7 linked regions of the Homo sapiens genome follow. The protein of the gene in region 1 purifies or fractionates together with the protein of each later gene. This does not show direct contact. Each region holds a gene or a part of one and is shown on either strand. Other genes may lie near its edges. The genes, in order: PFKL, DDX23, RELB, LRRFIP1, ANG, MAP3K8 and ZC3HC1.

The links.
Region 2: the proteins of PFKL (region 1) and DDX23 fractionate together in Homo sapiens (co-fractionation; one large-scale study listed by BioGRID). This does not show direct contact.
Region 3: the proteins of PFKL (region 1) and RELB purify together in Homo sapiens (tandem affinity purification; one large-scale study listed by IntAct). This does not show direct contact.
Region 4: the proteins of PFKL (region 1) and LRRFIP1 purify together in Homo sapiens (affinity purification with mass spectrometry; one large-scale study listed by BioGRID and IntAct). This does not show direct contact.
Region 5: the proteins of PFKL (region 1) and ANG purify together in Homo sapiens (co-immunoprecipitation; one large-scale study listed by IntAct). This does not show direct contact.
Region 6: the proteins of PFKL (region 1) and MAP3K8 purify together in Homo sapiens (tandem affinity purification; one large-scale study listed by IntAct). This does not show direct contact.
Region 7: the proteins of PFKL (region 1) and ZC3HC1 fractionate together in Homo sapiens (co-fractionation; one large-scale study listed by BioGRID). This does not show direct contact.

Annotation. Positions count from the first base shown.
Region 1 is NC_000021.9:44,324,053-44,327,873, reverse strand, and holds the end of PFKL (ATP-dependent 6-phosphofructokinase, liver type), read right to left. Parts: intron 3,384-3,821; coding exon 3,219-3,383; intron 3,019-3,218; coding exon 2,957-3,018; intron 2,722-2,956; coding exon 2,610-2,721; intron 1,914-2,609; coding exon 1,814-1,913; intron 1,716-1,813; coding exon 1,610-1,715; intron 1,160-1,609; coding exon 1,012-1,159; 3' UTR 501-1,011; downstream 1-500. UniProt on the Homo sapiens protein: Catalyzes the phosphorylation of D-fructose 6-phosphate to fructose 1,6-bisphosphate by ATP, the first committing step of glycolysis.
Region 2 is NC_000012.12:48,829,256-48,832,209, forward strand, and holds the end of DDX23 (probable ATP-dependent RNA helicase DDX23), read right to left. Parts: intron 2,932-2,954; coding exon 2,823-2,931; intron 2,062-2,822; coding exon 1,887-2,061; intron 1,438-1,886; coding exon 1,214-1,437; 3' UTR 501-1,213; downstream 1-500. UniProt on the Homo sapiens protein: Involved in pre-mRNA splicing and its phosphorylated form (by SRPK2) is required for spliceosomal B complex formation.
Region 3 is NC_000019.10:45,000,269-45,004,263, reverse strand, and holds the start of RELB (transcription factor RelB), read right to left. Parts: upstream 2,801-3,995; 5' UTR 2,685-2,800; coding exon 2,579-2,684; intron 1,316-2,578; coding exon 1,268-1,315; intron 1-1,267.
Region 4 is NC_000002.12:237,630,587-237,634,086, reverse strand, and holds part of LRRFIP1 (leucine-rich repeat flightless-interacting protein 1), read right to left. Parts: intron 1-3,500.
Region 5 is NC_000014.9:20,691,764-20,694,683, reverse strand, and holds the end of ANG (angiogenin precursor), read right to left. Parts: intron 1,654-2,920; exon of another isoform or gene 1,530-1,653; intron 1,205-1,529; exon of another isoform or gene 1,138-1,204; 5' UTR 1,120-1,137; coding exon 676-1,119; 3' UTR 501-675; downstream 1-500. UniProt on the Homo sapiens protein: Secreted ribonuclease that can either promote or restrict cell proliferation of target cells, depending on the context. Endocytosed in target cells via its receptor PLXNB2 and translocates to the cytoplasm or nucleus.
Region 6 is NC_000010.11:30,432,744-30,436,983, forward strand, and holds the start of MAP3K8 (mitogen-activated protein kinase kinase kinase 8), read left to right. Parts: upstream 1-1,440; 5' UTR 1,441-1,635; intron 1,636-1,893; exon of another isoform or gene 1,894-2,005; intron 2,006-3,829; exon of another isoform or gene 3,830-4,240.
Region 7 is NC_000007.14:130,044,875-130,048,374, forward strand, and holds part of ZC3HC1 (zinc finger C3HC-type protein 1), read right to left. Parts: intron 1,036-3,500; exon of another isoform or gene 1-1,035. UniProt on the Homo sapiens protein: Required for proper positioning of a substantial amount of TPR at the nuclear basket (NB) through interaction with TPR.

The sequences.
Region 1 (3,821 bases):
CAGGAAGCAGCCCTCTTGGGCAAGCACCTCCCACGTTCATGATGCAGAGCGCAGGCTTCGACGCTGAGGTTAACAGGCATCCTGCAAGCAGGGCGTCCACCACCCCGTAGCCGCCTGCAGGACTCAGCCCTAGCCCCTGGTGGGCGCAGCTCTGCGCTGCCTTCTTTTCCCCTCTTGCGTGTCCACCATCAATGTCTCCTGGATACTGGCTCAAGCCAGCCACCAGCCTGCAGGTTGGAGACCCCCACTCAGGCTGAGGTTGGGGAGACAGAGGAGTGAGGCTGTACCCTTCTGCCCCCAGGGGAGGACCAGGAGGGGCTCAGGTCACCCTGGTGGCCCCCAGGGAGTCCTGGAGAGCACCTGTGGCCTCTCAGGGCACATGTCCCTTTGACCTGGCCCAGGCACTGGCCAGAGGGCCCTCCACCCCTGGGGCTGCTGCCCACTGGGCTGGCCGCTCGGTGCTGCTCCCCCCTCTCTCTGAGGAGTTCTGCAGGCTGTGCTCTCCGGAGACCGATGCACCCCACAGTCAGGGTGATTTTATTTCTAGAAAAGGTGACAGGTGCTGCACGTGGGCAGGAGCAGGTCACAGTGAGGCAGGGCCAGGGGCATCCCCCTCTCAACACAACCTAGGCGCCAGCAGCCTACCGGCCAGGTAGAGCAAGGGCTGGCCCATGTAGTGAGCCCAGCATGGGGAGACGCTGAGGGCCCATGGGGCGCCAAAGCCAGGGGGCAGCAGCCTCCAAACACCGACAGCGCCACGTCCCCTGGGCAGGAAGGTGGATGCCCCAGGGCACTCTGTCCTCCTGCTGGAGGGCCTGGCAGGCTGGTCTCAAGACACCAGCCCGAGGGAGGCCTGGCAGGTGGCCAGGGATAGAGGCAGGGGATGGGCTGAGCAGGGACGCAGCCCCCACCTGCCTGCAGGCTCCAGACACAACAGCCCAGGCCCCATCTGAGCCCTGGCGCTGCGCTGGCATGGGTGGGGGCTGGGGAGGGGCGTGGGCATGGCTGGCCTCAGAAGCCCTTGTCCATGCTCAGGGTGCGGCGGGTCACGTGCTCCAGCTCCCCTGACACGTAGGCGGCCATACTGATGCGGTATTGTGCCAGCATCTTCAGCATGAGCCGCAGGCTCAGCCACCACTGCTCCCGTGGCATGCGGTGCCTGTGCAGGACGGGGATGGGAGGATGATGGGGAGTCAGGGGTCAGGGCAGCTCTTCAGCCACGTCCCCAGCCCCCCCACCCCCCCCGACCCTGCAGCCTGTGCATGCCCCTCTGTCTGAACATCTCGGTATCCGTGGAGCTGGGACAGGTCTGGGGTCCCCATCCCTCGGAGGCACAGCACAGAGTCAGCCTCAGCCGCCCTCAAGCGTGCCCACTCCTGGCTACCCGCTGTGCCCCCATGCCCACCCGAAAGGATTGCCCAGTGTTGTGCTCAGAAGACTTGGGCATGGTCCCTGCTCTCCACGGCCTGGCGGGGACCTGGGCATGGGGGCCCAGGAGGCCTTGCGGGGTCAGGGTGCCAGTGGGGCTGGGCCTGGCACACCTGCCTCAGGGAAGGTCTGGGCCACCCCTCAGCCCCACCCGCCTCCACGAGGCTTTGGTGGAACTCACTCGAAATCAGTGTCTTTCTTGAGCTCAGTGACGGGGCTGAAGGCCACCGCCTTCTTCTTCAGGCCGATCACGCAGGCCGAGTCTGGGGCATTGGCGAACACCCGTCCTGCAAACAGAGGCACGTGGCAGCCCTCCATGGTGAGGCCCTGCCCCAGGGAGCCAGGGGAGGGCAAAGTGAGGCCTCGGGTCGCACCCACCACCTACCCTTGCGGTAAACCTCGCGCAGCTTCTCCGACAACCACAGCATGGCCTTCACCCCCAGCTTGGTCCCATAGTTCCGGTCAAAGGGGGTTGGAGCGCCACCCTGGAAACAGGTGAGGCCCGGTTCCCTGGACTCCCCTGGGCTGCCTGGGCCAAGGCCAACGCCAGTGCAGACAGGATCCCCACGGGGAGCCTCCCAGGCAGCTTGTGAACACCCATTCCTTCCAACCCGTGCACCGTTCCCGTCTGTTCCCGATCGAGGACCCTGCCTGCTCTCTCCAGCTCCAAGTCCAGGCCAGAAGCTGCCTCCCGAGGCCGGCAGTCGGCTGCCCCTGGCCAAGTCAAGTGACTCCTGGGCCCTGCATCGGCAGCCAGCGGCCCCACCTCGGGCCCCATCACCTCGGGCCCCATGCCCAGCCACCCTGACTCCCCTCCCTGGCTCAGAAAACCCCAGGACGCGGGCTTCCTGCAGGGCCACCATAAGGCAGGGAGCATGCGGGGATCTAGGTGAGGGGTTCGGCGGAAGTGGCCGCGGGAGGCCTGGCAGGGGTGGGGAGCTCGGCTCAGCATGTGAATGCCCTGGCTCGGGCCCCGGCTCCAGCCCCAGCCCCACCCCTTCTTGAAATGAGACCTCACCTAGATACAGGCCTCGGTCCCCTCACTGGGGAAGGGCACACGTGCCCGAGGGCCTGCCGGGAGTGCCCGTGGGTGCCCGTGAGGGCTGGGACCCCTGGGGCCGGGGACAGATGGTGGCAGGAAAGAGGGGCAGGCCTCTCAGAGCCTCACCCCTGCCCCACACCTGCTGCAGGTGGCCCAGGACATTGGTCCTGCAGTCGAAGACGCCCTTGCCCTCTGATGAGTACAGGTTGTACAGGAACTCCGTGGTGTAGTAGTCATGGCACTTCTCGTTCCTGAGAGGGGCAGCAGGGCCTGAGTCGGCGGGAACGAGTTCAGGTCTCCCCCCGATCCTGAGTCCCCGCTGGGCCAGGCCTGGGAGAGGGAGTGGCAGCTCCCAGGAAAGCCGCCCTGGCCCACCCTCTCCAAGGACCCCTCCTGCCTTCTCCTGCCCAGCCGCTCCTCAGCAGCCCCACCCCAGCCCCGAGAGTTGGACGCGCAGCTGTGGCCAGGGACCCACGGCAGCCTCACCGCAGCACCAGGCCCCTCTGAATGTCTGTCTTCATCTTCTCCGTCATGTGCTCCACGTTGACCTGCGGGAGGGGCGGACACGGATGAGCCGGAGGACTGTGGGGAGGGAATTCCAGGCTGACCGGCGATCCGGGGCCAGCAGGAGCACTGGGCTACGCGTCCCACCTGCCCGGGCCCTGCCCTGCGCTGGCCGGCCTGAGTGTCTGGGGCCCAGGCTGGCATGCCGGCAGGTCTGCCGCAGCAGGGGCTGGGCTGGGCTCACCTTTAAGTCGTGGATGTTGAAAGGGTCCTCGAAGACGTAGGCGGCGTCGGCCCCCACAGCAATGCCAGTCACGGTGGCCAGGTAGCCACAGTAACCCCCCATGGTCTCCACGATGAACACACGGCGCTTGGTCCCCGAGGCAGACTGTTTGATGCGGTCACAGCTCTGGGGGACAAGGGGGGGTCGGGGGTCCTCCACGTGCCCACCCTTCCCTGTAGGCCGTCGGCATGGCTACCCTGCAGGGAGCCCTGTGTCTCCAAAGCCAGCCTGGGGCTGACGCACCCAGACAGCCAGCAGCACCAGGCTTGGGCCCACCTCCCACCTGGGCCCCACAGGACCAGGGGTTCTCAACCAGGCGACCCCACCCCCCAGGGCACAGTGGACAGCAGCCTGCACACACACTGGCTGTGAGTGGGCAGGGGTGTCCCTGGCACCCTTGGACAGAGGCCAGGCGCTGCTCTTAGACTACCCAGCACTGGGGCGCAGGGACATTCCCGCCTCAGTCTCCCCATCTGAGCTCATCACAGTAGCGAGGAACAACGCAGGGCCCCCCTGGACCTGGAAGTGGCTATGGCAGGGAGCTGAGCCCCTTCACCCGGGCCT
Region 2 (2,954 bases), on another chromosome or scaffold:
TGGGGTAAGAAGAGCATGTGAACAAGAGGGGTATGGGGGGAGGACTGCAGCCCTGCGTTCCTCTCACCACAGCCTGATACAGCTGGGTCCACCCGTTCTGCACCATCCCCTCCCAGGAGCAATGGGTCCAACTAGGGAGCCACAAGCAAAGCTCCCGAGACCAGGCGTTGGGCACACAGCGGCAGAGTGGTTCCAACTGCCTCACCTGCCAAAATTTCACAACTGCTTTCCTTTCTCACCTTTGCCTAAAGCTCCCTAGAGGGTGTCCAGGCCAGGGCCACACATTACGCGAGGCTAGAGCAGGGGCGGAAGATGCATTACAGTCCTGCGTGGCTTCTGCATCTCCTCTCAAGTCCACCTACAGACTCAAGACTATCAGCAGAGACCCCTCTACTCTTCTCTTAATGTGGCTGTCTCTCATTTTCCAAGCCAACCCACCCCGCACCCAGTGGTGTCCCTCCTGCCAGGGAGAAGCTGGGAAGTTTAACTAGAACTAGATCTAACAGTCTTAATATTCATGTATTTATTCTCAGAACATACAAACTTATCTTCTCAGAGAATAGAAAACAGAGATTTCACTCAGTGACAAAGATGGACACAGCCAGTTCACCGTGTCCCCCCATCTACTTAGAAAATCCCCTGGGGGAGGGGATGCCTAGAGCATACAGCACCCCTTGGTGCGGGGCTGTGCACAGGTCTAAAGACTCTCAACTTCCTTTACCATCCAAACAGGAAAACAGCTGTCCAGATGACAGTAAGATTCCACTGTCTGTAATCCTCATGGTGCCAGGTCTCCTGGGGCATCTAGGGCAATGATGCTACTGCAGTTTATGCAGTTACACAGTCAAGTCTGTGCCAAAGGAGGTCCCATCCGGCGGCCAGGTTTCTGTTCAGTCTGGGGAGCAATGCCAACTGGCTGCCCCCATAGCCTGGCATGAGCTGATGGCCCAGTGCAATCCCAAAGCAAAGAAGGGCAGAACTGGGCCAAGAAGCTGTGGTAATTTGCTCTCCCTGCCTCCGACAGCGTCGTCCTCTCCTTTTGCAGCCCCACACGCAGGCCTCCTGACCTGAGGGTCTGGGCTAGGGAGTTGGATTGTTTTCCTAAGCCCCCATATCCCAAGAGTGAGGACCTGGAAAGAGGGATGTGAGGGTTCTGAAAAACAGGCATCAGGCAGCTTTGGAGATGCCCTCAGCCCACAGGAAGAGTGCTGTGTCAGGCAAAGATGGTCTCTTCCCGGCGCTTCTTGGTGAGGATGGTGCCTGGCTTATGCTGGGCATCTGGGTGGTTGGCTAGTTCGGGGGGACAGGAAGACACTGGGCTTTCCAGGATAGCTTGCTTCAGCTCGTAGAACACAGCAGAGTCCTCTTTTGTGAGGAAGGTGATGGCCACCCCACTCTTGCCTGCTCGTCCCGTGCGGCCAATGCGGTGGATGTAATCTGGGGAATGGGAAGAACGTCACTCAGCATAGCCCAGATGCCCTGGGGAGCCGTGTCTGATGCCTCCACTTCTAGAGGCATCCTTCCCACCCCATCTCCAAAGGCAGGAATACAGCACATGCTGCCTGAACCTGAGGCGCCCACAGTGCCCTCTCCAGGTGCCCATCTCCCCTGTCCTCCTACTGACTGTGGTCCCTACCACACTAAGACCCACAGCTGCCTAGCTTCATTCTTCACACTCCTGAGGACACAAGTGTCATCCCAGCTGCTGGGACAACAAACCCAGGTAAGATAAAGGACAGGAGTGCTTCTCATGGGAGCAAGCAATCCCAGACTTGGAACTGAGGGAGGCAGTAACAGCCTTCCATGGACAGCACCCTGACTTCCAGTGGGACACCATAAGGAATCTGACTTCACCCTGGATTGAAGCTGCTTTCCCTGGAACTTACCTTCAATATTTTTGGCCATATCATAGTTGACAACCATAGACACATCTTGGATGTCAATACCACGACCAGCCACATCTGTAGCCACCAAAATATCCTTGGCCCCAGCCTTGAGGTTGGACAACGCAAACTCTCGCTGCTCCTGGCCTTTTCCACCGTGCAGTGTGCAAGCATTGTACTGTTGGAAGAATGGTGAAGTGAAGAGTGAGCAATGCAATCAAGGAGAGACACAGGAGTTCAGAGGAATGGGACACAGATGAAGGGAGGGTTGGAGAGAGCAGCAGAGTACGAGAAAGGAAAGGAAACAAGAGAATGATTGCAGTGAAAGAAGGAGAGAACAAGTGAGCTGAAGAGAGGGATGAGAGAAAAAGGTGTGGTGTGGCAGGGACACACAGAGTAAGGTCAAAGGCAAAACAGCTGGGAGAGCGGTGGAGCCAGACAGATGAAAAGTCCTCAAAGAGAATTAGGGGCGAGATCAGGGTAGAAAGCAGGGATCAAGAAGTTTAAGGAAGTTGGAGAGCTGAGTGACAGGGACACACCCCTCCCCTCAAGCACCAGTGACAGGAGTAAAGGACACTGATTATCAGCTCCCTTCTGACCATATCACCTCCTCTCAACGTACCTAAGCAGTTTTCACCTACTCTTTTCTACATCCTCAGACTGCCAGGATATGGGTCTCAAACCTTTCCCTGGCTCCACCTCACCAGGATGAAGACCCAAGGCAGCTTTGGCTGGCATTACTGCAGCAGACAGGGGGTCCCAGCAATTGATTCCATTCTCTTTATTCCCTCAAACCACCCTTCACCCTGGTCCTAACTTGTTGATTGCTGGACAGGCTAAAGAAAGGGTGAGACTTGAAAGGAAGAGCCTAGGGGGCCCTGCTAGATTCAGAAAGCAGTGCCACAGAGGCTAGACTTTGTTCTCCCCTGCCAGACACACCCCCATCTTCTCCAGGGATTTGGCCAACACGTCGCAGCCCTTCTTCTGGTTGACAAAAATAATGATGGGTGGGTCAAAGCCTTGCTCCAAGATTGCCAGCAGCTTTTTCCTGGAAGGAAGAGGAGAAAAACA
Region 3 (3,995 bases), on another chromosome or scaffold:
GCAACAGGAATGAAACTCCGTCTCAAAAAAAAAAGAACCACTGTCTGGCCAGGCGAGGTGGCTCACACCTGTAATCCCAGCACTTTGGGAGGCTGAGGCGGGCGGATTACCTGAGGTCAGGAGTTCAAGACCAGCCTGGCCAACATGGTGAAACCCCATCTCTACTAAAGACACAAAGTGGGTTGTGGTGGCGGGTGCCTGTAATCCCAGCTACTCAGGAGGCTGAGGCAGGAGAATTGCTGAACCCGGGAGGTGGAGATTGCAGTGAGTCAAAATCGCATCAATGTACTCCAGCCTGGGTGACACAGCGAGACTCTGTCTCAAAAAAAAAAAAAAAAAAAAAAAAAACACAAAAAACAGACAAAAAAAACCCACACACACACCAAAAATGAACCACTGTTATAGACTGTCTAGTAATAATAATTATTATCGTTATTATTATTATACCACTAACAGTTAACACTTACTGAACCCTTACTGTGTGCCAGATACTGCTTGGAAAGTGTACCTGTATCAATTCATTGAATACTCTCAATTTCCCTGAAAGAGAGGCACTGTTATTCTGTCCATCTTACAGATGAGGAAAACTGAGGCCTGAACTGGGGAACTGACTTGCAGACATTCACACAGGGAGGGGCGATGACAGCAGTATGTAAACCCCAGCTCCAAAGCCCAGGATGGCAGTGATTACCTTCTACTAAGCCACAGTGAATCTCTAAAGAAGCCTTTGCGCATGGATAGGTGGTAAGATTTACCTGTCACGCTTTTTTTTTTTTTTTTTTTTTTTTTGAGTCGGAGTCTCGCTCTGTCTCCCAGGCTGGAGTGCAGTGGTGCGATCTCGGCTCACTGCAAGCTCCGCCTCCCAGGTTCACGCCATTCTCCTGCCTCAGCCTCCCGAGTAGCTGGGACTACAGGAGCCCGCCACCACGCCCGGCTAATTTTGTTTTTGTATTTTCAGTAGAGACGGGGTTTCACCGTGTTAGCCAGGATGGTCTCGATCTCCTGACCTCGTGATCCGTCCGCCTCGGCCTCCCAAAGTGCTGGGACTACAGGCGTGAGCCACCGCGCCCGGCCACCTGTCACGCTCTTAACAGTCCAAGAGGTAAGAAAACCTAGGGGGCCCATCTCAACTGGCAGGGAGGGATGCACCCTGTCAGGAGAAAGCTGAGGTGGACCTCGTGAACCCCCAAACAGAGACATCTCTGTGGAGTCCTCCCAACCTCATCCTGCATGAGCGAGTGGGCAGGAACTGTGGAGGGCTGCTCACCTGTGCTCCTGGAAACGGCGAGCGAGAGTGAGGAGAGGTCGGGGGACCCTGCAGAGAAGGAGAAACGTCTCAGGAGGTGATGGGGGGCAGCCAGAGGACCAGAGAATATCCCAAGGAAGCCCCACCCCTTCCTCTTCTAGCCCTTCCCCTCTGGATCAGGCCCCTCGCCCTGACTGCCCCCCTGCGTCTGGCCAGGCTTACCAGCTAAATCATGGACAGGTCCTGGCCTTTAGTTTCTGTGGTTCGCCCCACCCTTCATCACACTCAGGGCCCGCTCCTTTTCTCCCTTAAAGTTGGGCCTGGAGGGGACCCCATCTCAATCTCAGTTTAAAAAGTCCCCATCCCGCTGGGCACAAGGGCTCACACCTGTAATCCCAGCACTTTGAGAGGCCGAGGCGTGCGGATCACCTGAGGTCAGAAGTTCGAGGCCAGTCTGACCAGCATGGTGAAACCCCGTCTCTAGTAAAACTACAAAAATTAGCCGGGTGTGGTGGCGGGCACCTGTAATTCCAGCTACTCGGGGGGCTGAGGCAGGAGAACTGCTTGAGCCCGGGAGGCAGAGGTTGCAGTGAGCCTAGATCGTGCCACTGCACTCCAGCCTGGGCGACAGAGCGAGACTCCATCTCAAAAGAAAAAAACAAAAAACAAACAAAAAAAAACATCCTCCTGTCAGGGTCAGACCACTTTTAATTTTTTCAATGTCAAGGCTCCGCTTCTCCGTCTGGAGGCAAGCCCCACCCCCTCCTCATTCTCTGTGTCGGGCCCCGCCCTGCTTTTTTGGGTAACAGGCCCTTCCCCTCCACTCGGCCAGAGTCAGGCCCCGCCCCTTCCCCTTCTTTCGGCCAACTCAGGCCCCGCCCCCTTCCTGCCCTCACGGCCAGGCCCCGCCCCCTCACCCCTCAGCGTAGGGCCCTGCTTCCTTTTTTGAGTCAGGCCCGGCCCTCTTCTCATAGTCCGGGTCGGATCCCGCCCCTCTTCTCCCTCTCTGGGCCCGGCCCCGCCCCGATACCGCCCAAGAGCAGCTTTCGCTCCGCCTTCTCTGAGTCAGGCCACGCCCCCTTCTTTGCCTCAGGGTCAGGCCCCGCCCCCTCTCACTCTACAGCGGGACGCCTCGCTCGAACCTCGGGCCGTACCCCCTCATCACCCTCTGCCTTCTTCCTACGCCCTAATACAGTGTCTCAGGAACCCTCACTCTGCCCCCGCGAAACCCTTAGACTCCCATAGGAACCCCCAGACTACTCCGGGACCGCCAGAATCCCCGCATCTCCAGCCCCGCCCCAGACCCCTCTCCTGAACCCCAGCCCCGCTTACCTAAGGCCCCCAGCTCCGGCGCAGCCGGCGGTCTGGCGACGCGGCGACTCGGCATGGCCCGGCCAGTGGGGACGGACGGCCCAGAGGCTGGCCCAGACCGAAGCATGCACGCGGGCCGGCCGGGCGGCCGGGAGGCACGGTCTGGTGGACGATCGCGGGTCGGACGAGCGGCGCAAGGGCTGGGGCCGCAGGCCGGGCAGGACGCGCGGCGCCCGGGGCTGCGCGGGGCGCGGGGCCGGGCCGGGCGGGCGGCGGGCGGGGGCGGGGCGGCGGAATTCCCCGGCGCCGCCGGCCTGCGCGCCCATTGGTCTGCACCCCGCCGTGACGTCACGCCTGGGGAACGGGAAAACCCCCACGCGTCACGTGATCGCGGGGGCGGGGCCGGCCGGGAAAGGGAGGCTGGGCGCTCAGGAGGGGTTGGGCAGGCGTCGCTGCCCATTGCTCTGGACGAGACAACTGAGGCCTGCTTAGAGCCATCACGCCTTACCCATTGAGCAAGCCGGCAAACTGAGCCGCTCCCCGCTTTGGTCTCCCAGTGGGACTTGAACCTGCCGTTTCTCAGGCTGGAAGGGGAGCTTCAGGATCGAGAGGTTGGCAGGGCTCTACACCTGCCATCCATAATAATATTTCGGAAACCTCCAAGGTCTCGCTACACCTCAGTTTCCTCAACCGTAAATTGAGGATGAAGATATTTAAGGAACGTTTAAAGCTAGCGTGTCAGCTTCAGAATTTATGTTTTGTGCGTTGTTGTAACCCCAACGCCTAGACCAGCGCCTGGAACACCGTAGGTGCCCAATAAATGTTTATTGGAGGCCGGGCGCGGTGGTTCATGCCTGTAATCTCAGCACTTTGGGAGGCCGAGGCAGGCACATCACGAGGTCAGGATTTCGAGACCAGCCTGACCGACATGGTGAAATCCCATCTCTACTAAAAATACAAAAATTAGCTGGGCGTGTTGGTGTGCGCCTGTAATGCCAGCTACTCCGGAGGCTGAGGCAGGAGAATAGCTTGAACCTGGGAGGCGGAGGTTGCAGTGAGCTGAGATCGTGCCACTGCACTCCAGCCTGGGCAACAGAGCGAGACTCCCATCTCAAAAAAAAAAAAGTTTATTGGATGAATGCATGGATGTTTTATTTATTGGTTTGTTCCTCCCTGCAGCCCCTGAAAGTTACCCATAAATAGCCCAGACCACTTTGAGCTCAAAAGCTCAGTTATTCAGTCTGCGAATGGCAGCAGTGTAGCCTCCGTATACATCCTGAGCTGTGTGCCTAAACCCTGAGCTCATCCCTATCACCAGCGCCAGAAGCATATGATAGGATTATTGCAGAAGGGACTCAGGCTGAAAGAGGGGCAGCCATTTGGCTAGATCACATTCCTAAGCCTCTCATATTCCTGAGAACGACTAGGTGATCTATTA
Region 4 (3,500 bases), on another chromosome or scaffold:
CTGCCCAGCCTACTGTGTGGGGAACGGCCTGAGAATATGGGTAAAAACATATATTACTCTGATGAAATAAAAATCAATTTTTTAAAGATGAAAGGATGGAAAAAGAAGATGAGAGATACAGTAAGGCAGAGACAGATATGGGACTCTCTCTCCTGAAATGTCACCCCTGGTGGTTCACAGGTCAGTGGGGGACGACATGTGCCAGGGATAGGAAGAAGGTGGCTTGCCTGCAGGACATAGCCTGAATGGGGTCTTGGAGGGAGCTGAGGGGCTGATCCAGGAAGCAGCCTGGGCCATGAACTGGCAGCCCCTAATTAATAGGTGGCCTCAGCCATGTCCCATGGTGTCTCTGAGTCTGTTTTCTCTCTGTCAAACAGAGAGACTCGGAACTCTTTTCACAGGATTTAAACAAACTATGGGAGTAAAGCTTCCAGAGTACCTGGCACACCTTGGGTCTTAGAAGCAACCTCCATTCGCCCCTCTCTCCTTTCCCGTCTCACACTCACTGGGGACGGGCAGGGCTCACGGGGGACAGGCAGGGCTAGAAGCCAGGTCATGTTCTCCACACACACATCCCAACCCTGAGTACCAGGCCAACGAGTGGCTCAAGAGTCACCCAGAAAAGGAAGAAGGGAGACAGCTGGCCCTCTGACAGAAATAGCTGTGGGGTGGGGCCCAGGGCCGTTGGGGACCAGCAGGCCTGTCCACAGCTGAGTTTTCTGTGGACTCAGAAACCCAGAAGCATCTTTTGGGAATCGCACAAACAGCCCAAGGTCACAGGCACATTGTTCACGCCCTCCAACAGCTCAGACTGTTGGTAAAAATCCGTCTGGAACACCAGTCTTGTCACATTCCTAAAACCTTGTAGACGATCTGCCAAGATGGGTGTTTGGCTTAGGAGAATCAGCTGCAGAACAGCCCTCAGTGACTCCACTGCGGCTGGGTTCCAACTGGAGGCAGGATGTTGTTCAGGCTGGACAGTCCTGTGTCCTGCCGGGCACTGAACGCCCCTCACCTCTCCCAACTCCTGTGGAACAAAGGGGCAGGGCCCAGCCCCAATGGCAAACCAGTGTCCAGCAGCACTCAGTTGGTGTGCAATCTGCTGGCCAGCCTCAGAAAAGCAAATTCATAGAGAAAAAAGTCATGAAATTCACTTTCAAATCAAGTGAAATAGGCCTAGGGACAAGTCTGACATCTTGGTTGCGTGCAGGTGAATTCTGGCCCCAGGGTCACCTCACCAGAGGGCAAGGGACTGCATTGGGGACCCAGATTTGCATCTTTGCAGCTGGGCTCAGTCCTGGACTCTCCACCCCAGAGGAGCCAGGTCAGGTTAGTGCTGGAGAGAGGTAGAGCGAAGTTTCCACACTGAACCCCACTTCTGGGCTGTTCTGGAAAAGAACACGTGCACCCCATCCCCAGCTTGGTTCTCCAACAGCCTTGAGGAGAAGAGAGACAGGCTCCCTCCGCACAGGTTGATATAGGAGGGCTATTTGGGAAGGACAGGGAGAAAAGATGAATGAAAGGGGGACTTAGGATGAAAAGACCCGATATTTACGAACTACCTGAAACAAGGGGCATGGCTTTATGTTGGGTTCCAGAAGCAGAGCCCATGGCAGGACTGGATGTGAGCCCTGTCCCAGCAGGGGCATGAGGGGGGCAGGCCAGTCAGGGAAGGGCTGGGGAGGGAGGTGGTCTCGGCAGGAGTTGGCCTCAGCCTGGCCCGCAGAGAGCTCCGGAGCAGGAAACGTACCACAGAATTGGTTGCATCTTGAAACAAGCCTGGGGGACATTTTGTGACCTCACAAAATGGTTACTTGATGGCTGCAGGCTGCCTTGGGGGCAATGCAACCCCTTCTCCACAACTGGAGTCCTTGGGGGCTGTGTGACCCCTTCTCCACAACTGGACTCCTTGGGGGCAGTGTGACCCCTTCTCCACAACTGGACTCCTTGGGGGCAGTGCGACCCCTTCTCCGCAACTGGACTCCTGTGTGGCCGTGGCTCAAGTGAAAGGCGGTGGCTGTGAGGCCTGAACCAACAGCACCCGCAGGCCCACGAGTCAACTTGGGGCCGGTGAAGCAGCCGGGTGGGGCAGCAGTGCCCCTGCCATGGATCAGGGCCCGAGGCCGCAGGCCACAGAGGGGCCAGCTTGGAGAGGAGGCTGCAGAAACAGTTATGGGGGGAGGGCCTCCGTCCTGCTGGGTGAGGAAGGGGTACCTATGGCACCACCAGGGGATAATAAGCTCACCGCACTGTCTCAAGGCCCCACGGTGAGTTCCTAATGCAGCCTGCGCAAATGACTGTTCCTGTTGGGAAAAACATTCTTCATTTGAGAGCAATACTTTGAATTGCATGGTGAGACCAGTATCGCTTTACTCAGCTGCAGAGTGCTGAATGAGAAGTTTGGGATGCTACCAAAATGCACCAGTAGAATGTGAAATGCGGTAGGAGAGGAAAATCTATCTGCGTTGGAAACACCCCTCCCCAGAAGTGGGAGGCGCAGCTCATGCCTTTGGTGCTAATGAGCTTCTGCAAGTGCGTACTAAACCTTTCTCCTGATAACATCCCGCCTGAATTCCACTGCAACAAGAGAGTGAGAAATAATTGACTTGCGATAATACAGCATTTGCAAATAACTCCCTTTACTATACACGCTTGCCTAGAGTTTAAACCATCACATGGAAGCAGGACACCGGCTGCAGAAGCAGAAATGCACCCTCCAAAGGCTGCCCCCACCACGAGTCCTGCTTCTACCCAGAAGAGTGCAAAGCCCTGCCTGCACAGGGCAGCCTAGCTCTTCCCCTCGCTCCAGCGAACTGGAACCCACGTCCCTGCCAGGTGACTCAGGCTTCCCAATGACCTCAGCCCAGAATTTTCCACTTACTCTCCAGAAGGCATGTTCTTGGGTGCCAGGCCCAAGTGGCAGCCCACTCCCTCCCACTTCCTTGAAGCCTCCCCAGTTTCCATTCAGGCCCCCACCTTCCCAAGTGTTTCAGGGAGGCCGGCTCTCCCCAGTCCCAGGATGAGTCTGACAGGTCACAGGGTAGACCCACCCCCCTTTGCCACAGGCACTGAGCCCCTAAGTCCATGGTCCTTGTCAAAGAGCTTGGTGCAGGAGTGGCCAGACAGACTCATGAAAGTTTACCAGGGAGATACTGCTAGCTCTCTGGAGAGAGCCACCAGAAGAGACGGTGTGTGGGCTCCACAGTGGCAGCCCGGGAAAGCCAAGGCCAGCTGGCCTCCATGAAGCAAGTCAGCCTGAGGATGAGGCCACCCACAGAGGATGGCCCAGCCCAACCAGCTGCGCAGGTGCTGTGGGAAAAAGAGGCCGGAGCCACTGGTGAGGCTGGCGGGGAATCCTGCCCTGCCTCCGGGCTTGCTGTGCTCCAGCCAATATACTTCCCCTTGTCAATGTCAGTCCAGTCAGGGTTTCTGTCCCAGCAGCCAAAGCATCTTGACTGGTACATACAGCCTTCAAGAACTCAAAATGCCACTTCCTCCAG
Region 5 (2,920 bases), on another chromosome or scaffold:
GATCAACATACCATACTTTCCTTCACAGAGAGGTAAAGTCTACCTCCCTAATGACTTGTAAAAACTGACTGATAAGGAAAAAGTGGCCCGGCTCAGTGGCTCATGCCTGTAATCCCAGCACTTTGAGAGGCCAAGGTGGGCGGATCTCCCGAGGTCAGGAGTTCAAGACCAACCTGGCCAAAACGGTGAAACCCTGTCTCTACTAAAAACACAAAAATTAGCCAGGTGTGGTGGTGCATGCCTGTAATCTCAGCTATTTGGGAGGCTGAGGCAGGAGAATCACTTGAACCCAGGAGAGAGAGGTTGCAGTGAGCCGAGATTGTGCCATTGCACTTAAGCCTGGGCGACAGAGTGAGACTCCATCTCAAAAAAAAAAAAAAAAAAAACGAAAAGAAAAGAAAAAGGCATTTCTATCCTATGCAGTCCTCTCAGGGAGCAGCCAAGTAGAGAAAATGGGGGAAAGATCAATATGCCCAGAATCAGTGAGAAGACTCTGATTCTTACTGATATCAAGACATTTTTATTTATTAAACATGTTGTCAAACAGAAAACAAAAGGTCCAGGTAGCTCTTTCTTTGGGCCCTTGGCAATGAATGTTGCCACCACTGTTCTGGGTGCAGAGGGGAAATGGAAGGCAAGGACAGCAGAGCCAGCACTTGACCAGGGGCCCGCTGGTTACGGACGACGGAAAATTGACTGATCCAAGTGGACAGGTAAGCCATTTTCACAAGCAACAACAACGTTTCTGAACCCCGCTGTGGCTCGGTACTGGCATGGAGGCCAGGGGGAACCTCCATGTAGCTTGCAAGTGGTGACCTGGAAAGAAGACTTGCTTATTCTTAGGTTTTCTCTGTGAGGGTTTCCATTCTTGTTTTCACAGATGGCCTTGATGCTGCGCTTGTTGCCATGAATAAATGTGTTGATGTCTTTGCAGGGTGAGGTCAGGCCCCGTCTCCTCATGATGCTTTCACAGTATCTGTCATCCCGGCCCTGTGGTTTGGCATCATAGTGCTGGGTCAGGAAGTGTGTGTACCTGGAGTTATCCTGAGCCAGGGTCGGTGGGGTCAGACCCAGACCCAGCACGAAGACCAACAACAAAACGCCCAGGCCCATCACCATCTCTTCCAACACAGGCTCCTGCGGAGGGCAAAAGGAGGTGTGGTAGACCCAAGAACAGCATCACCAAATTAGGCCAAAAGGACAGGAGCTTTGCTCTCTGACACGGCATCATGAATCAGATCTTTTCCACCACCAAATTTTATATTCTATTTTCCCTTCCTCATTAACCTCACACTTCGTCAATCCCTTCCTGCGGAACGTCTATTTAATAGTTTCCTGAGCACAACCTCTAGCTCCAACCGTTCTTCCCCATCCCTTAGAATCACTGAGTATTTCTCTATCAGTCGTAACATTACAAAATCCACTCTCACTCTTTAATTCATGTATTTATTAATTGAATAATGAACATTACATAGGTCTCTACTGGGTACCAGGGACTGTGCTAGGTCCTGAGGCACATTAAGACATACCAAATGACGGCCGGGCGCGGTGGCTCACGCCTGTAATCCCAGCACTTTGGGAGGCCAAGGCGGGCGGATCACGAGGTCAGGAGATCGAGACCATCCTGGCTACCACGGTGAAACCCCGTCTCTACTAAAAATACAAAAAATTAGCCGGGCGTAGTGGCGGGCGCCTGTAGTCCCAGCTACTCGGGAGGCTGAGGCAGGAGAATGGCGTGAACCCGGGAGGCGGAGCTTGCAGTGAGCCGAGATCGCGCCACTGCACTCCAGCCTTGGCGACAGAGCGAGACTCCGTCTCGGAAAAAAATAAAAACAAAAAATAAAAAAATGCCTCCCTAATAGGAAATGAGGCATCCATGGGGAAAAGATGGGGGCTTCAATGTACTGAGATGAGATAGTAATACAGGAGGTGAGAGCTAAGAAGAGAGTTTTAGGGGAGTGGTCTCTAACATTTTTGGCACCAGGGATCATTTTTGTGGAAGACAGTATTTCTATGGATTGGTGGGGGATGGTTTCAGGATGAAATTGTTCTGGTTCAGATAGATCATCAAGCATTAGTTAGATTCTCATAAAGAGTGCACAATCTGGATCCCGCACATGCGCAGTTCACAATAGGCGTCCAGCTCCTATGAGAATCTAATGCTGCCTGCTGATCTGGCAGGAGGCAGAGCTTAGGCGGACAGGCCACAGACCGGGATTTGGGGACCTCTGTTCTAGGGAACCCTGAGCCCAGGGAAGGAGTCAACCATAAAATTGTTTACGACAGGCTTCTAGCTAATTAGTCAGCTAATGTGAAGAAAGCAGTTGAAAGCAGTTGTATCCTGAGTTGAAGGGAAGCAGACCTACCTCCCCAAGAAGTAGGTGGTTCTTGTTCGTTTATGAGTAACTCACTGAATTTATGACTGGCTATGATTTCTTGGTAGTCATCACACATACTGAGAAATTCTCACAAAGGGAGAAAAATCTGATCTTCAAATTGTATTGCATTCTTAAGTGTAATACAATTCTTATGACCCCAAATGTAAAAATAAATGGTACATTTTCAAAGACATTAAATTAATTATTAATTTTTTATTTTGTGCTTCTCTTGTGTGTAAGTCAATGAACATTTTCGTATCAAATAGTTCTGTAGCCCTTGCAGGAAGCACCAATGTTGTACAAGTTGTGGGGATATTGCTGTTCACAGAAGGGAGTCTGAGCTTAAAAAAAGGCCATGGGTCCTGGCACTAGGCCTGTGGTGTGGCTAGCCTGTTCTGAGAGCAAGACTGTGGATCTAGAAAGACACAGGACCCCAATGTTCTATGGTTACATGGGAAGACGTGACTGGGTGAGCAAAGTGGGCTCTCTTTCTAATTTGCATTTGGTGTTGATTCCATTACAAATTATAATCTATGAACTTA
Region 6 (4,240 bases), on another chromosome or scaffold:
GGTAGCTATGTTGCCCAGGCTGGTCTCCAACTCCTGACCTCAAGTGATCCTCCCGCCTCGGCCTCCAAAGCGCTGGGATTACAGGCGTGCGCAACCGCGCGGAGGCAATCTAGAAACTGCAGAGGGAGCACGGACCTGGGCACTGGGAAGAATAGGGCGTGGACTTGGAGTGTGACCGCGTTTGAATCTGGGTTGTGCCTGGGACACCCCACCTCCTGGGCCGTAGGTGGGGGGGGAGAGAGAGAGAGAGAGAGAGAGAGAGAGAGGATGTCGACCTTACATGGCTCCTAGCTCTCCGCGCTCTAGCCGAATGCCTGGTTCCTAGTGGGTGCTTGATACGTGGGAAATGTAGGGGGAGGGGGTGGCGGGGCATTGGGAATGTCCCGCAGAGTGGATTTCGGGAGAGTGGCGCTTTTCTCTAGAACTCTCTTCCGGTTACACCTGGAGTAAAAGCTTGACACTCTAGAAGGAAAACCCCAGATGAGCAGCTAGGACTGAGGGTTAGCGGTAGGCGGGAGCGGGGAGATAGTACAAGTACGCTTCCTAATGAGGCGGTGCCGCAAAATAACCAATTTTAATAAAGACTGCAGAGAAGAAAACCAGGTTCTGCTGGCGGAGTGCACAGGCTCCCAGCCGAGCGCCCAACAACCAGGTTCCGGGCCCACCCTGCCGCAGCCTCTTGGAAATCTCTAAGTTGGAATGTGTGCGTGCGCACCACGGGTCACTGCCCTCTTTGTGTGTGAATTTGAAGCGAAATCTGGGCGAGGCGGGGCCGTGCTACTAGCAATCGGACCCACAGTCGCGGTTCCAAGAAGCCCCGAAGCTTCCCCGGCTTCCCGCAGCACTGCTGGGAGGGCACACGGCGCCTCTGTCCCCACCCCAGAGCGTGGGGCGCGCGGAAAAAGGTCTGGTGACTGCCCTCCCCGCCGCCCCCCGGGAGCGTGCCCTCCCGCCGGACCCTGGGACTCCAGAGAAGCGCCGAGGGCGCGAGTACACTAAGATATACGACCTTCCCTGGGGACCGGGAAGGGCACAACCACCTCTTGCAACTCCGCCACTAAGACGCCTTGGGTCACCAGGCCCGGGGGAAAACTCGTCCCCGTCCCAGGCTCTCGATTCGGGCCGCAGCTCACGTCCCGCGCTCCTCCCTGCGCGCCGCTCTGCTCCTCCCTAGTCCCGCCTCCAGCTCCGCCCGGGCGCCCAGAGGGCAAATGAGGGGCGGCGGGGTGGCGGGTGGGGGGGAGACGCGGAATTTCCCAGCGCGGGGGCTCTGGCTTACCCTGCAACCGGGCAGTCTCTTTCTGTTTACGGAGAGAAAGGGGAAATGGAAAAGTCGGGGAGGCGGTGGCTGGCGTCCGCTGCGCCGCCCCTGGGCAGGCTCAGACGCCGTGAGTCAGGGGCAGAGCAGGGCGGTCTGAGCGTGCGGGCGACGCGGGTCTCACTCGTCCGCTCCGCTCTGGACTGCGCGCCACGCTCTGGGGTCCGGCGCCCTGGTTCCTGCTTCTGCCGCTGCCGCCGCCGGATCCCAGTGGCCCGGCGTGCTCGGCTCCCACAGGCCTGCAGCCAGCATCGCACCGAACCTTCGGGGGGCCGCGGCTGGAGCGCTCGGCCGGCGTGGGAGCGCCAAGGCCGCAGGTAATCCAGGGTTGGGGGTCTCCGGCGTGTCTTTCGGGTCGCGTCCCGCCTGGGTGCCCCGGGGATTCCCATGCAGAAATGGAGGGTGCCCCCAGCAGAGGGGAAAACTCTGGCGTGGGAAGAGGTGGGGGCGTGCCCACAGCTGCGCTCGCGGGTCGCCGGCTGCACCAGGCACAGCTGGAAAGCACCTTGCGCAAGGGTCTCACGGGGTGCAGACTCGCGACTCCTCCCCCTTCCTCCTCCTTCCCGTATCCGCAGCGCCAGGGCAGTGCTGGTCTGGGCAGTGCGCGGGGAAGCGGGGACCCGCTGTCACTGCGCCTCCCGCTGCCGACGCCGCCTGGACGGCCGCACTCTCCCTGCCCGAGACCCGGTGAGTGCAGCTCGGAGGCTGGAGGACCCGATCCTCCCAAATGCTGGGTGCTTTGATAATTTATAAGCCTTTTAGGCTCCCTTGACTTAGAGAACCAGGAGGAAAGGAGTGGGAGTGTGGGTTGGCGGAGCCCAGAGACTTGTGAATGGCTGGAACTAAATTCAAGTTTGTAACCCGGACTCTATCCCATGACTAAAGAGGTCATAGCAGAACACGAAGGCTGGGCTTTTGGTCTAAGAAAGAATACTAGGAGAAAAAAAAAGTTATTTTCACGGAAGTTGTTTTCGAGCGATAGTGCATGATCAGGACTCTGAAATTTTTCTAGCTCTGGGCGGAGAAGGACGCCTAGGGATTGTCTCCATAGTTAACAGGGGAAGGCCACCGGCTGCCTGTAAGAGAGAAACGTTGCGATGCTTGTCTATTTCACTTTTGGGAAGACAAGATTAAAGGCTGCTCTTGATAAAAAACAGGGACAGAAAGGCTCTTGCAGTTGCTTTACATACCTGTGGCCTGAGTCGTTTGTGCCAAGGAGAGTGTAATCCACTTCCAGCTGACGCCCCCAGCTCTCTGCGACGGATTGAGGTTTGTGTGCAGGACGTCTGGCATACGGCCCATGAGGACTTTGTCGTGTAAAGCAAATGGGAACGTTGAGGCATGTAGAGGTTTTGAAGCAGAGTGTCGGTCCTTCCTTCCATACGCCTGAAACGCATAATCCGGGGCTTTTTGAGAGCAAAAACATAGTCAGAAATGTGCCCTGAGGGAGAATGTACTATTTTGGCACACATATGTATATATGTATATATAATTTTTAAATTTTTTTTGAGAGGGGGTTTCACTCTTGTCGCCCAGGCTGGAGCGCAATGGCGCGATCTCGGCTCACTGCAACCTCCACCTCCCGGGTTCAAGCGATTCTCTTGCCTCAGCCTCCCGAGTAGCTGGGATTACAGGCGCCCGCCGCCACGCCCGGCTAATTTTTGTAGAGACAGGGTTTCACCATGTTGGCCAGGCTGGTCTTGAACTCCTGACCTCAGGTGATGCACCCTCCTTGGCCTCCCAAAGTGCTGAGATTACAGGCATGAGCCACTGTGCCCGGCCTAAAAAAATATTTTAAATGAGAAATAACACAAGTAATAGTCATTCTTTGTTAGGCAGAAGCATATGCTGTTATGCTGGCCATTTTCATTCACACTTGCCAGGAAACACTCACATTTTGTTTCTGTATATGGAGGCAGCCAAGAGTATTATGTTAATGTTTAGGAAGAGAATTTCCTCGTGATTTTATTGCTGATTTCTGAAATAATTCAGTGTAACTAATTTTGACTGTATTTGCACATCTCTCCAATTCCAAAAGCTGGCATAATTTTCTGTTTGGTTAGGAAGTAGGAATTTTATGAGGACTTTTATTGTAAACTGTGTCAAGGGAAAAATCATCTTATACTAAACGTCTTTATTGCCAAACTAGAATACCTTCACAATCTGAACTTTCTCTAGATGGGCACAGATCATGAATAACTCAGAAACCATTAGCATATTGTGTGCTTAATTAAGGCTGGAAAGTGCTGAGGCTTTTTGCAGGCGCAGTTAGCAGGCGAACTGGTCAGCAGGGTTTCTGGGGAACGTAGATTTGCGTGACAGGGGCCCTGTGTTGCTAAGGAATTACTGCAGGCACTGAGAAAAGTCTCAGCGTCAGACACTCCTCCACCTCCCGGGTCCTGCTTCCCTCCCTCTCCCCTTTCCAGGCAACTCACAGTTTAGGGGTGTGGTTGTGTGTGTTCAAGCTCTTGGGTTTTACATATAAATGCCTGAGACTTTTCTGCAGGGTTTAAAAACTAACATCTTGTCTTACAGCTCTTTTAGGATTTGTCTTTTAGAATCTCCAGTCCTCACAGGAAAACCCCCCAATTAAAAAAATAAAAGAATAAAGAATAAAAAGAATACCACTACTACTATAAAAAAAAAAAAAATCCTCTAAAATTTGTCTTCCCAGATCAGCAGAGTGAATTTGAACTGTGTGGACTTTTTTCCTCTTTCTTTCTTGAGTCATGTTAGTACTGAGAACTTTTTTTTTTTCTGTCAAATCATCTGTTTGATAAATAAGTCCAGGAGACTTGGATCCTTTCAACCCCTGAGGCCCTAAATTAGGCTGTTTTTTTTTTAACCTCTGTGTTTCCAGTAAATTCGACAAGCAGAAACTGCAACTAAACGGCTCAGTAAAACCGAAGTCAAATGTTCCTC
Region 7 (3,500 bases), on another chromosome or scaffold:
TCAAACAAATGTCATTGACATACACTCTACAACATAACTGTTCTGTAATCTTCAAAAGTATCAAGATCATGAAATTCAAGAAAAAACTGAGGAAATGTTCCAGATTAAAGGAGAATAAAGCAACATGACAACTAAATGTACTGTGTGATTCTCAACTGGATACTTCAACTATAAAGAATGTTATTAGTATAACTGATGGAAAAACTGGGGTCTGAGGATTGGAGGGTAGTAATTTATCAATGTCAATTTTCTGATTTTGATGGTTGCATTCTGGTTATGTAGGACAAAGTCCTTGTTTGTAGGAAATATTTGGGAGTAGTAAGACATCACTTTGGTGGCTTACTTTCAAATAGCTCAGGGAAAAAAGGTTCTTTGTAATCTCTGCAACCTTTCTGTAAGTCTGTAATTTAAAAATTTTTAAGAATCACTGTAAAAAATTACCATGTAAGTCTTTCTGTCCTTGCACACAGGGAATAAAGTAGTGAAAAGCAGAAGACGTGGTGTGGTACCACATTTCTTCCGCCTTCAGTCTCTGCTCCTTTCACAGAGCTACCCATCAGTACCATGTTGGCCATGTTGGAGTAGAGTATCCTCAGCTTCACAACCTCTATGGTCTATAGGAGACAAAATGACAGCCCAGAGAAGAATTTGCCATTTTCAGTGGAAAACAAGTGGCAATTACTAATTATGATGACTTGTACTTTGGATCTCATTTGCTGCACTTTCCTTTATAAGACATCAACTGGGCCAGGTGCAGTGGCTCACGCCTGTAATCCCAGCACTTTGGGAGGCTGAGGTGGGTGGATCACCTGATTTCAGGAGTTTGAGACCAGCCTGGCCAACATGGTGAAACTAAAAATACAAAAACTAGCCAGGAATGGTGGTGGGAGCCTGTAATCCCAGGTACTTGGGAGGCTGAGGCAGGAGAATCGCTTGAACCCGGGAGGCAGAGGTTGCAGTAAGCCAAGATCACACCAGTGCACTCCAGCCTGGGTGGCAGAGTAAGACTCCATCTCAAAAAAAAAAAAAAAAAAAAAAGACATCAACGGCTTAAGATGGATGTTTGAGCTCACAATCTCTTTGATACTATGCAGCCATAAAAGGAACGAGATCATGTCCTTTGCAGGGATGTGGATGAAGCTGGAAGCCACTATCCTCAGCAAACTAACACAGGAACAGAAAACCAAACACATGTTCTCACTTATAAGTGGGAGCTGAATGATGAGAACACATGGACACATGAGGGGAACGACATACACTGGGGCCTGTTGGAGGTGGGAGTTGGGGGAGGGAAAGCATCAGGAGGAATAGCTAACAGATGCTGGGCTTAATACCTAGGCAATGGATTGATCTGTGCAGTAAACCACCATGGCACACGTTTACCTATGTAACAAACCCGCACATCCTACACATGTACCCCGGAACTGAAGATAAAAGTTGAAGAAAAAAAGGCCAGGCATGGTGGCTCATGCCTGTAATCTTGGCACTTTGGGAGGCCAAGGCAGGAGGATTGCCTGAGCTCAAAAGTTTGAGACCAGCCTGGGCAACACAGTGAAACCCCATCTCTACTAAAATACAAAAAATTAGCCAGGCATGGTGGCGGGCGCCTGTAATCTCAGCTACTTGGGAGGCTGAGGCAGGAGAATTGCTTAAACCCAGGAGGTGGAGGTTACAGTGAGCCAAGATGGCACCACTGTACTCCAGCCTAGATGACAGAATGAGACTCCATCTCAAAAAAAAAAAAAAGTTGAAGGGAAAAAAGGAAACAAAACAATGGATCAAATTCTTGAAGTCAGGCATATAGCACACTAGGTATGTTTCTAAATAAACTTATGACATAACGTTTAATGTCTCTTCGTGAAACATGCAATGTGATAGCTGGTATGTGCTTACTTTTTCATTTGGGTAATATTCCAGTATAAGTTTTTTTTTGAGACGGAGTCTTCTCTGCCACCCAGGCTGCAGTGCAGTGGCATGGTCTCGGCTCACTGCAACCTCTGCCTCCCAGGTTCAAGCAATTTCTCCTGCCTCAGCCTCCTGAGTAGCTGGGATTACAGGCGCATGCCACCACACCCAGCTAACTGTGCATTCTTTTTTTTCTTTTTGAGATGGAGTCTCATTCCTGTCGCCCAGGCTGGAGTGCAGTGGCATGATCTCGGCTCACTGCAACCTCCGCCTCCCAGGTTCAAGCAATCCTCCTGCCTCAGCCTCCCGAGTCACTGGGACTACAAGCATGTGCCACCATGCCTGGTTAATTTTTGTATTTTTAGTAGAGACAGGGTTTCACCATGTTGGCCAGGCTGGTCTCAAACTCTTGACCTCGTAATCCACTTGCCTCAGCAAACCAAAGTGCTTGGATTACAGGTGTAAGCCACCACGCCCGGCCTAATTTTGTATTTTTAGTAGCGTCAGGGTTTCACCATATTGGCCAGGTTGCTCTCAAACTCCTGACCTCAGGTGATCCGCCCACCTTGGCCTCCTAAAGTGCTAGGATTACAGGCGTAAGCCACCATGCCTAGCCAGTATTAGTTTCTTGATCAAAAAAAGGTGTGTGATTTGGCTTATTTTATGGTCTTAAATTCTGAGATTTTGTTAATTTTTGATTCCTAGGTCAAGACCTTGTTAATAGTTTATAAGACAGAAATTCGGGGCCAGGTTTGGCGGCTCAGGCCTGTACTCCCAACCCTCTGGGAGGCTGTGGCAGCATAATTGCTTGAGGCCAGGAGTTCGAGACCTGCCTGGGCAACATAGCAAGACTTTGTCTACACACACACACACACACACACACACACACACACACACACGGGTAGGGGTGCAAACTTGGCAGGAAAAAAAAGCAGCTGGAGCTACTAAAGACTTCTCTCAAAGCAAGGTGATGTGAACAGCTTTTAAGGTGGCTCCAATGATCCCTGCCTTCTTATATTCATGCCCTTGTGTTATCTGCTCCTCTTGAGTATGGGCTGGCCTAGTGACTTGCTTCTAATGCATAAAATATGACAAAAATGATGAGATGTCACTTTTGAGATTAGATTACAAAATGAGGCTGGCTTGTATCTTGTTCTCTCCTTTGCTCACTCTGATGGAAGTCAGCTGCCAAGTTGTGAACTTTCCTTTAGAGAAGCCCACATAGCAAGGAACCAAGTGGGGAGGGACATCTCTGGCCAATGGCCAGTATAGAACTGAAGCCCTCTGTCCAACAGACACAAGTAAATGAATCCTGCCAACAGTATGCCAATGACTGAGTTTGGAAGTGGACCCTTTCCTAGTTGTTTTTTTTTTTTTTTTTTTTTTTTGACACGGAGTCTTGCTCTGCTGCCAAGGCTGGAATGCAGTGGCGCGATCTCGACTCACTGCAAACTCTGCCTCCTAGGTTCAAGCTATTCTCCTGCCTCAGACTCCTGAGTAGCTGGGATTACAAGTGAGCACCACCACACCTGGCTAATTTTGTTTTGTTTTGTTTTATTTTATTTTATTTTTCTTTTGAGACAATTTTCCTAGTT